3 linked regions of the Homo sapiens genome follow. The protein of the gene in region 2 interacts with the protein of the main gene of each other region in a pairwise test. Each region holds a gene or a part of one and is shown on either strand. Other genes may lie near its edges. The genes, in order: PLEKHB2, UBXN6 and SVIP.

The links.
Region 1: the proteins of UBXN6 (region 2) and PLEKHB2 interact in binary tests that used the Homo sapiens proteins (3 or more experiments, as listed by UniProt).
Region 3: the proteins of UBXN6 (region 2) and SVIP interact in binary tests that used the Homo sapiens proteins (3 or more experiments, as listed by UniProt).

What each region holds. Positions count from the first base shown.
Region 1 is NC_000002.12:131,108,188-131,111,839, forward strand, and holds part of PLEKHB2 (pleckstrin homology domain-containing family B member 2), read left to right. Parts: intron 1-3,652. UniProt on the Homo sapiens protein: Involved in retrograde transport of recycling endosomes.
Region 2 is NC_000019.10:4,451,172-4,454,823, forward strand, and holds part of UBXN6 (UBX domain-containing protein 6), read right to left. Parts: intron 2,923-3,652; coding exon 2,759-2,922; intron 2,352-2,758; coding exon 2,287-2,351; intron 1,322-2,286; coding exon 1,193-1,321; intron 1-1,192. UniProt on the Homo sapiens protein: May negatively regulate the ATPase activity of VCP, an ATP-driven segregase that associates with different cofactors to control a wide variety of cellular processes.
Region 3 is NC_000011.10:22,823,157-22,826,808, reverse strand, and holds part of SVIP (small VCP/p97-interacting protein), read left to right. Parts: intron 1-3,652. UniProt on the Homo sapiens protein: Negative regulator of the ER-associated degradation pathway (ERAD) of misfolded proteins. It competes with AMFR/gp78 for binding VCP/p97, and inhibits AMFR/gp78-VCP/p97 complex formation that is required for degradation of ERAD substrates.

The sequences.
Region 1 (3,652 bases), on a different chromosome or scaffold from region 2:
GTTGTCTGTTTCGATTCAATGCTTTCAAAGAGATACAAATTCAAATTTAAAATAATTTAAATTGTTGAATATGGCTTACATTTTAAAGCTTTGCATAGGTTTTATTGGCATAAAAATAATGTTCTTTTGCAGCTAGTTTGCTGGTGTTTTATTCTCTAGAGACCAACAGCTAGGGCTTAGTGTTTATCTGATGAGTTTTAGTTTATGCATTCAGTTTTGCTCCAGGATATAAATAGTGAAATGTTGAATTAAGTTATGGAGTGGTGTGAAATTCAGCATGCTAAGGCAATCAAACAGAAGTCTTCTGAGCCATTTGAGAAGCAGCTTGATGTCCTTGTTCTTAGAACAGGGCTGTCCAATCTTTAGACTTTCTTGGGCCACATTGGAAGAAGGCCATACATAAAATACACTAACCCTAATGATAGCTGATGCACTAAAAAATAAAATTGCAAAAAAATCTCATAACGTTTTAAGAAAGTTTACAAATTTGTGTTGGGCTGCATTCAAAGCTGACCTGGGCTGGGGCCATGAGTTGGACAAGCTTGTTCTAGAATATTTTCGGCAAATTTTGGTAAGGGGGAAAATAAGTAATAGTAATAATAGTAGTAAATAGTAATAATTGCTGTCAAAGCAGCTACCATTTATCGAGTTCTAGTAACTGTGAGGCACCATGCCAACTACTTACATATTATTTCACCCAATTTTCCGAACATCCTGTCAAGTAGGTGGTGGGAATTTTCGTTTTATAGATCAGGCTTGGAAACGTGACTTGTCCGATTGAGTCAGGATCTGAACATAGGTCTTTTAACTCTAAAGCTTATACCCAAACACTGGGTTCTGTGAAATTTCAAAAGCATATGATAGGCTGACTGCAGTGGCTCATACCTGTAATCCCAGAACTTTGGGAGGCTGAGATGGAAGAATCCCTTGAGCCCAGGAGTTCGAGACCAGCTTGGGCAACATAGTGAAACCTCGTCTCTACAAAAACAAAACAAAATGTGATCAAAATCATACTTCATGATTTTTGGTTTCTAAAGATACTCTCTAAATTTCTCTCCCCAATTTAAAAACGAAAGCAGAGCACTGTTGGAAGGTTCAAATAGGTAGATTAATTTAGGTTGGTTTTTTTGTTTTGGTATAGTTGAAGATAATTCAGGTTATTGTTTACATGTTTACATTTATCAAAATAATACATGTACATAGATTGAAAGACCAAATAGGCTGAGCGTGGTGGCTCAAGCTTTTGGAGGCCAGCACTTTTGGAGGCTGAGGCGGGTGGATCCCCTGAGGTCAGGAGTTTGAGACCAGCCTGACCAACGTGGTAAAATCCCGTCTGTACTAAAAGTACAAAAATCAGCTGTGCGTGGTGGTGGGCGCCTGTAATCCCAGCTACTTGGGAGGCTGAGGCAGGAGAATCGCTTGAACCTGGAAGGCGATGGGTGCAGTGAGCCAAGATCGCGCCACTATACTCCAGCCTGGGCAACAAGAGCGAAACTCTGTCTCAAAACAAACAAACAAAAAAAACAACCAAATAGTGCTTTAAACCTTAGAATAAAAAAAAATATATCAATCTCTTGTCCACCCCCTTTTTAAACTATAGACAACTATTTTCACCTTTTTTTGGCACTTTTTAAAATAGTATTTTGGCTGGGTGTGGTGGCTCACACCTGTAATTCCAGCACTTTGGGATGCCAAGGCAAGTGGATCATGAGGTCAGGAGATCGAGACCATCCTGGCTGACACGGTGAAACCCTGTCTCTACTAAAAATACAAAAAAATTACCTGGGTGTGGTGGCGGTTGCCTGTAGTCCCAGCTATTCGGGAGGCTGAGGCAGGAGAATGGCATGAACCTGGGAGGTGGAGGTTGCAGAGAGCTGAGATCGCGCCACTGCCCTCCAGCCTGGGTGACAGAGTGAGACTCCGTCTCAAAAAAAAAAAATAGTATTTTATCTTTGTGGATATGGTAAAATTGCTATTGATTTACATGTAATCTTTTGACTTTTGATCATAGAAGACTTTTGCTGCCTTGTAAAACTCTTCAATCCACCAGTGAGTCAAAAACTTGTAGGAAATTTGTCAGTTACTTTTTTTCCTCCCCTGTAGTACTCGGTCCTGCTCCAGTCTGGACTGTTTTTTTTTTTTTTTTTCCTCCCCAGTCCTTCTGCACAGCTGCCTTTCTGGGAATTTCCTCCCCTGCCAGTTGAAGACCGAATCCTACTCTGTCGCCCAGGCTGGAGTGCAGTGACATGATCATTCATGGCTTACTGTGCTTCTACCTTCTGGGCTCAAGCGATCTTCCTACCTCAGTCTCCCGAGTAGGTGGGACTACAGGCGTGCACCACTATGTGCAGCTAACTTCTTATTTTTTTGTTGAGAATGTCTCACTGTGTTGCTGGGTTGGTCTCAAACTCCTGGGCTGAAGCGATTCTCCCACCTTGGCTTCCCAAAGTGTTGGGATTATGCTCAAGAGCCACCATGCCTGGCCTTGATTAATGATTTGACTGGGTGTGGAATTCTGGCTTGGAAATAATTTTCCGTTAGCATTTTGAAGGTATTGCTCTAGATGTCCTGTGTCTTGCTGATTGTTGATCCTTTATATATGCTTTTTTCTTTGGGAAGTTTTTAGGTTCTCTTCTTTGTCCTTGATGTTATGAAATTTCAGTCATCCTACCTATGGAGAATCTTTTAAAATTCATCATGCTGGACAGTCATTGGATCTTTTGAATCTAGAAATGTGTTATCCTGTTGCAGGAAATGGTTTTATAGTATTATTTCTCTGCTCTTTTCTCTGTGGTTTATTTATGAAATTCTCCTATAAGCAGAATTTTTTTTTTTGAGACGGAGTCTCGCTGTGATGCCCAGGCTGGAATGCAGTGGTGGGATCTCAGCTCACTGCAACCTCCGTCTCCCGGGTTCAAGTGATTCTCCTGCCTCAGCCTGCTCAGTAGCTGGGACTACAAGTGCGTGCCACCATGCCTGGCTAATTTTTGTATTTTTAGTAGAGATGGGGTTTCACCATACTGGCCAGGCTCGTCTTGAACTCCTGACCCCAAGTGATCTACCCACCTCAGCCTCCCAAAGTGCTGTGATTAACAGGTATGAGCCACTGTGCCCAGCCAGCAGAATATTTTATATTCCAGGCTCATCCTCTAATTTTTTTCCATCTCTTGGTCTTTTTTTTTTTTTTTTTTAGCTCTTCATTTCAGAGAGATTTCTTCCATCTTGATCTTTCCAACTCTTGTATTGAATTTTTAATTTTGGTTATTATTTTTAATTGAGAGCTCTGAATATTTCTTTTTATTCTTGTTTTTTTTTTTTTTGAGATGGAGTCTCACTCCAGTCACCCAGGCTGGAGTGCAGTGGCACTATCTCGGCTCACTGCAAGCTCCGCCTCCCGGGTTCACGCCATTCTCCTGCCTCAGCCTCCTGAGTAGCTGGGACTACAGGAGCCTGCCACCACGCCCAACTAATTTTTGTATTTTTAGTAGAGACGGGGTTTCACCATGTTGGCCAGGCTGGTCTCGAACTCCTGACCTCAAGTGATCTACTCTCCTCGGCCTCCTAAAGTGTTGGGATTATAGGCGTGAGCCACTGTGGCCAGCTGTAAAGTAATATTTTTAAAGTTTTCTTTTGTACCCAGCATTGTCTCTGA
Region 2 (3,652 bases):
TCAGTCTCCTGAGTAGCTGGGATTACAGGCGCCTGTCACCACGCCTGGCTAATTTTTGTATATTTAGTAGATAGGGGGTTTCACTATGTTGACCAGGCTGGTCTTGGAACTTCTGACCTCAGGTGATCCACCTGCCTCAGCCTCCCAAAGCACTGGAATTACAGGCAAGAGCCACCGCGCCCAGCCACTTACTATTTTCTGAGAAAGGGTCTCACTTGTCACCCAGGCTGGTGTGCAGTGGCATGATTACAGCTCACTGCAGCCTCTACCTCCCAGGCTGAAGCAATCCTCCCACCTCAGCCTTCTGAGTAGCAGGGACTGCAGGTGCACGCCACCATGCCCAGCTATTTTTTTTTGTTTTTGGCAGAGACAGGGTTTTGCCATGTTGCCCAGGCTAAAGCCGAAGTTTCTGAGAACCTATTGATGGTGTTAAGTGAGGACTTGCTGTATTGGAAAAAAATGCTGTGGACGTTTTTATTTTTTGAGATGGAGTTTTGCTCTTGTTGCCCAGGTTGGAGTGCAATGGCGCTATCTCGGCTCACCACAACCTCTGCCTCCTGGATTCAAGCAATTCTCTTGCCTCAGCCTCCCGAGTAGCTGGGATTACAGGCATGTGCCACCATGCCTGGCTAATTTTGTAGGAAGTTCTTTCTGTATTGAAGCAAATAATACTTAACCTTTTATGAAAAACAACCAGGCCACGCGTGGTGGCTCACGTCTGTAATCCTAGCACTTTGGGAGGCTGAGGCGGGTTGATCACTTGAGGCAAAAGTTCGAGACCAGCCTGGCCAACATGGTGAAACCCCATCTCTACTAAAAATACAAAAATTAGCCAGGCATGGTGGCAGGTGCCTGTAATCCCAGCTACTTGAGAGGCTGAGGCACGAGAATCGTTTGAATCCAGGAGGCGGAGGTTGTAGTGAGCCGAGAATGCGCCACTGCACTCCAGCCTGGGTGTCAGAGTGAGACTCCATCTCAAAAAAAAAAAAAAAGACACCTAGTTGGGAGAGAGGAGATACAGATGCATACACAATGGTGTGCCTGGATTTGGGGTATCAGAGGAGGGGCTTCACTACTAGCAGTGGCCTCTGGGGACTCTGGGAGGGATCTGTACCACCTGGGCTTCCGATGGAGGGTGGCTCAGGCACAGGAAGCTACAGGTTGGGGCAGGAGCACACAGGGTGCCACTCACCAAGAGAATGGCCTCCTTGATGCAGGCGTCCCGCTGGTCCTTCCTCAGGGTGGCCCCAGTGAGCGGACAGGTGAAGTACACGCCAGGCACAGCCAGGTGGGCAGAGCCTTCCTCTCTGGGCTCAGATACCTGGGGCGGTGAAAGCGTCCAAGTCTGGACCGTGGACAGAGGCCACCCCGACCCTCGCCGAGCACCACAGTCCTGAGTGTGGCCCGTAGAACCAGACATCTCCAGCCCCCATGCTGTCCCTTCCACCTGGTGGCCGTGGGAGACACCCTGGCCAAGTGACCGGATCCCCGAGTCTTTTCCCTGGTATGTCAAATGTCCCTGTGGGGCCTGCTCAGAACTAAACGAGGTAAGGAACGGAAAGTACGGAGCAGCTTCTGACACGCAGGAAACACCCAGCAGATGGCAGCTGGGTTCCTGCTGGTCCTGTCCCCAAGCTGTTGAGGAAGGAGCTCTGTGTGGGTGTCTGCGGGCACAGTGCGCTGGACAAGGCATGACTTCTGGGCCTCCATTTCTAGGCCATCTCTAAGGTCCCTGCGTGCTAAAATTCACTGAATCCTCGAGGGTCAAGCTGCTTAGAACTCCTTTCAGCGGAGCTCTGAAGGCCCACCTCCTAGAGGAAGGCCTCCCTGATTCCACCCGTCTCCACAGAGCCTCTTGACCTCCAAGGCAGGCAGGACTGGGCAGTGCTAGGGGACAGGCTCTGAAACCACAGACTGGCTCTGGTCCTGCCTTTGCTGGTCCTGGGGTGTAGGAGAGAGGACAGCTGGTTTCACCTCTCTCAACCCCGGTTCTCTTTTTGAATAGTGGAAACTGTAACTGCATCTGCCCTTAAGGGGTTAAGGGGAGGGAGCGATGGGCTCGTGTACCTGAGGCCCACTTCTCCAGGCCTGAGCCGGCATCCTCAGCTGCCGAGCCCCGAAGGTCCCAGACAACACCGTGTTCCACCACAACCTGTGTCCACCTTGCAAGGCAAGGTTTTCCAACAGCCCTTGAGCCCCAAGGGCAGAGGCCACATCTCCCCCGTGACACAGTCAAGCTGTCCCCACCCCTTGGCATGGGACAGTGCCACCAGTGGCTGTTCTTACCACGTTGGTCCCTGGGGCCTCGGGGCTCCCGCTGACGGTGGCTTCGGCTTGAAGTTCCTTTCTCACTGGAAGGCAGCCCAAGAAAGAGAGGCAGAGACGGGATAGTGAGCACGCCGCTGTCCTGGCCCAAGCCCCCTCATTCCCGGGGTGGGCCTGGGGGCCACGCACACCGCCCCAGCCTGCTTCTGCTGGAGGTCAGGCTGGAGGTCCCCTGCAGGACTTGCTGTGCAGCCACCCCTCAGCCTGAGCAAGCACCCCACTGCCTGGGCAGCCCGTTTCTGCTCCAAGTCTCTGCTCCCACCCCCTCCCCAGGAAGCTGCCCTTCCCCCAGCACCTGCCCTTGATGAGCCGCTCCCAAGGGTGACCCTCACACCCCCACGGTTGCTCATGTGACTTCTGCATCCAGGGCCAGGCACCAGGGCCGAGAACCTCAAACAGCCCCAACCTGGGCCCGAGGAGGGCCATATCTCACCCTGGTTTCGGATGGTGTCCTGCGATGTGGGGCCCCAGGCCCGGGACTGCTTCTGCTCCAGCCGGGCTAGGGCGGCAGCGGCTGCCATCTGTGCCTCATTGGTGGGTCCCTGGCGGGGCGGCCTGGGGGCTGGCTGGTTGGGCTTCTCTTTGTGGGCCTTTTCCCTGGGAACAGACCGAGGGAGAGTGAGTGTATCCTCCCGAGGTGGCCGGCAAAGCTGACGTGCAGTCACACAGAGGAGCTTCTGCCCCTCCCCAGCACCATCAGCCAGACGTGTCCCTGCCTATGTGGGCCAGGACACCTGGTTCCCAGGGGCCACCTGCAGCCACCAGATGGTTCTACTGCAGGCGGAAGAGCCCCTGGAGGAAGGAGATGCTGGTTCCACTCAGCTCTGCACCATCGGGCAAGTCCTGCCCCCACTGGCCCTCAGCGTCCTCATCTGTAAAATGGGGTGACAGCACCCCTCCTGAGGTGAAGGCACCTTGACATCCTCAGTGCTTTTTTTCTTTTTGAGACAGGGTCTTGCTCTCTCACCAAGGCTGGAGTATAGTGGCACGATCATGGCTTACTGCAATCCTGAGCTCCCAGGCTCAAGGAATCCTCCCGCCTCAGCCTCCCAAGTCGCTGGGACTTAGAGGCAAGCATCATCATGCCTGGCTAATTTTTCTATCGAGACAGGGTCTCGCTATGTAGCTCAGGCTGGTCTCGAACTTTTGCCTCAAATGATCCTCCCACCGTGGCCTCCCAAACTGCTGGGATTATAGGCATGAGCCACAGCACCCAGCCCGCATCCTCAGGAATTGAGGAGACTCAAGGGGTGTCACATCCTCCCTCCCTCCCTGCCATAAGACTCTCCACCCTCAGGTCACAGCTTCGTTTGCTGAGCACCTACTG
Region 3 (3,652 bases), on a different chromosome or scaffold from region 2:
TCTGTTTTATGGCCTGAGCTCTTTTACGCATTGATTTGGAATCTTTGATCTTTCCATTGCCCCTGTTTATTATAGTTATGTAAATGTTAATTTGGATTACAGAATGTATACAGGTGTGGGTATCATACACATACCTCCCTAGATATGGATCCCAGAGCTAGACACTGGGAATATAATGGTGGACAAGTTAAGCAGAGTCTCTGAATGCTGGAGTCTTTACACTCTAGCAGGACTTTAAAGGATTTATTTTTAAAATCCCTTAAAGCTCAGGAAAATAATGGCTCAGATATTAAGAATTTATTCTTGGTCCATTTTTAAAGTAAATAGTAGTATATTTGTGAAAAGGACAATGTCTTTAATTTCAGTCATTTATATTTAACTTGTCAATGATTTATGAGTACCTTTCAACAGATTTATTGGTTTTTTTTCTCTCAAAACTACACACACACACACATGCACATACATATACATGGACATATACACATACACTTGCCTACATGTAGATACTCTCGTAACTTGTGGGGCAGGCAGTTTATGAACACCCTGAGCAGTTGATTCTGGCTCAAGAATATCACAGAAATAAGAATGTGTGTCTGTGTATTTTACTATTGTACGTTACTTCATCTTATATCATTTAACGAATGAAAATTTATGAAGTTTTTTTATGGTGAACTTTTAGCAATATATAATTAGTTTCAATATAAGGTAAATAAGTCTGACCATTTTGCTTATGTTTTTTATAATTCCATAATAGAACAGAATAGGTCTAGTGTAAAGTAAAACAGTTGGGTGATAACGAGGTCAATTCTTTATCATATCTCAATATTCTGTTGAGATAAAGTGCTGTTTCACTAGGTTTACTTCATATAGGGTTGTCAAAAACAAACACAAAATTACAAAAGTTAAATTGTAGGACTGGAAATAATGAGATCCACTATTTCACAGTAGAAGTGGTGAAGGTATTAAGTTAAAGTCATACGTAATGTTATAGGAAAAGGATAATTTAATCAACACTTAATCATAATTAAGAAGACACTTCACAAGTTCTAACCTAATGAAATTAACATCAGCTTTTAAAGTATAATAAAGAAAGAGGCTTTCTTAAACTTGAAGCTTCCACACTCTGAAGTCTATAGATTAAAAAAAAAATTTAGGCCTTATATTACTTACAATCCATTCAAAAGTGCTCAAAATGTAAAACATACCCAAAGTTAAATTTAGTTTCTGTTTTTCTTTGTGTACTGTTCTTGTAAGAAATCTCTCAAACTCACTTAGTAAAAATGACCTTCAGGACCTTGAAACTATATAGTGGCAGGAGGATTTTCTCCAGTGGCTCACTGTCATTAGCCACTGCTGTTGTCCACTGTGAGTAATTTTTCCTTGGAATATTCCTCATCACCTACCACTACCACACTAGCTTCAAGTGGCATGCTCCATTCTGCTTGACACATGCACAACATGTCAAGAGCATGAAGTGAAAAAATTCTGGAAGGCTCAGGGATAACAGAAGGGAAAAATACAAGGCAGAAGTACTTAACCCTCAAAACGCTTGGCCTATGGTCCTTTAATGGCTGCTGTCTGGCTTGTTTCATGGGCTGGCCTGAAGTATTGGTAGAGTCTTCCTAAGGTAGGAAGGTTAGGAAGACTCTTCCCTAGGTAGAGTCTTTCTGACCTGACTCTACCTAGAGTATGAGTCTAGTTTGCATTCCCTGTCTTCATGCCTTTCACCTATTCATCTCCTGACCAGTGCTGCATCTTTCCAGGGTAATTAGCATGGGTAATGCTGTCTTCTGACTTCTTACCTGAAGAAGTCAATGTGATGATGGCATCAGGATGCAAAGTACTATCAGTACAGGATATAGCAGCACGGGAGTAAGGGTAGACCTCTAGTACAATGGCTTTCCACCTTAGCTGCATGTTGGAGTTTCATAGGCAGCTTTCAAAAAGGATTGTTCATTGGGCTCCACCTCACACCAGTCAGTCTCTGAGAGTAGGGTTTAGCCATCAGGACTGTTTTAAGCTTCCCAAGGTAATCTAATGTGAACCCAGATTGAGAATCACTATCCTAGCGTTTATAACACTTGTCCTAAGAGAGATGTTTTGGAAGATAGAGTCCCATGGGAATAAATGTTTAAAAATGCTAAATTGTATATTGTAGACTATATCCCCTTCTTAGAGACTAAAAAAGGCACAGAATTATGGCCTCTAAGAAATTGTACAATGAAGAAAAGCAAGTTTACTTGGATTAATCTTTAATGTTGAAAATTTATTTAAACATAGATTTTATATATATATGTGTGTATATATATACGTATATATATACATATATATATACGTATATATATGTGTATATATATATATATGTGTGTGTGTATATATATATATAAAACACCCAATAATATTCCTTGGATGTACTTGGAAAACACTATCAAGAGATTGCCAAATATCTCTGGTTCTATCCTAATGGCTCTTCAGGACCTATCACAGATTTAATAGACTTCATTAAACAAAGGGGCAAATGGAATATTTTCTTAACTCAAGAAGGAAAAGACCTTGCCAAACCATTTTTTAATGGTTTCTGCCATTTCTTGACTCCCTGGCTCAAACAAGAATTTTTAAATTTTTGTTTTGTTGTGTTTTATTTTGTGTTCCTTTACTGATTATTGGATATTTAGGCTCTTGCTACTGAATAGCAGGTTCACTGTGCAGTGGTTACCAACTTCAGAGTCCAGTGGACAGAATACTCATGCATGTAACATTTGCATGAAGAGGCTGAGCACAGTCACTCACACGTGTAATCTCAGCTGTGAGAGGAAGGCTTTGGGAGGCTGAGAAGATGGGATGATCACTTGAGGTCAGGAGTTAAGAGACCAGCCTGGGCAACATAGCGAGACCCTGTCTCTACAAAAATAAAAAATAAATTAGGTGTGGTGGCATGTGCCTGTGGTCCTAGCTTTTCGGGAGGCTGAGGTGGGAGAATGACTTGAGCCTGCGAGGTTAAGGCTGCAGTGAGCCATTCCCACCTCACCCCAGCCTGGGCGATAGAGTGAGACCCTGTCTCAAGAAAATCCCAAAACAAAACCAAAAACATTTAACGTGGAGTGAGTTTATTACTTACAGATTGGCAACAAGGGACAACAGAAGCCTAGGATTCATTATAAGCTTGTCTCCCAAGGAAAACTGCCTGGGGTTGATGACATCTGTGTGTGCCCCACTTGAACCTCAGATGAGTGCCCTGGGTTTTATGACCTGGGGGTTAGAAGGGGAGGTACTACATGACTCCTTGGGCTAAAGCATTGAAGGACGTCCTGTCTTTAGGGAGGGACTGGAACAGAACTTGAGCTGTCCTTGGCCATTCATTTGCTATCCCAGGATGTTACATTCCCAGCACATTCTACAGTTACTCTTGAAAACTACAGGCAAGACAGTGAGACAGAGCTATCCTGCAACTACCCACCAATCTGACCAGATATTTTGTCTTCTTTATGCTTTTAAACTATCATCTTATTTCAGGCTTTGGACTATAATGTAAAATTTTATGAATAGCTGCTATTCAGAAAAATCATTTTGTATTTCTATGTCCCATATTCCTCTTTTTACCTGTTTGTTCACTGAAGTACTGTTATATAACTTCAAGTAAAATTTACTTTTC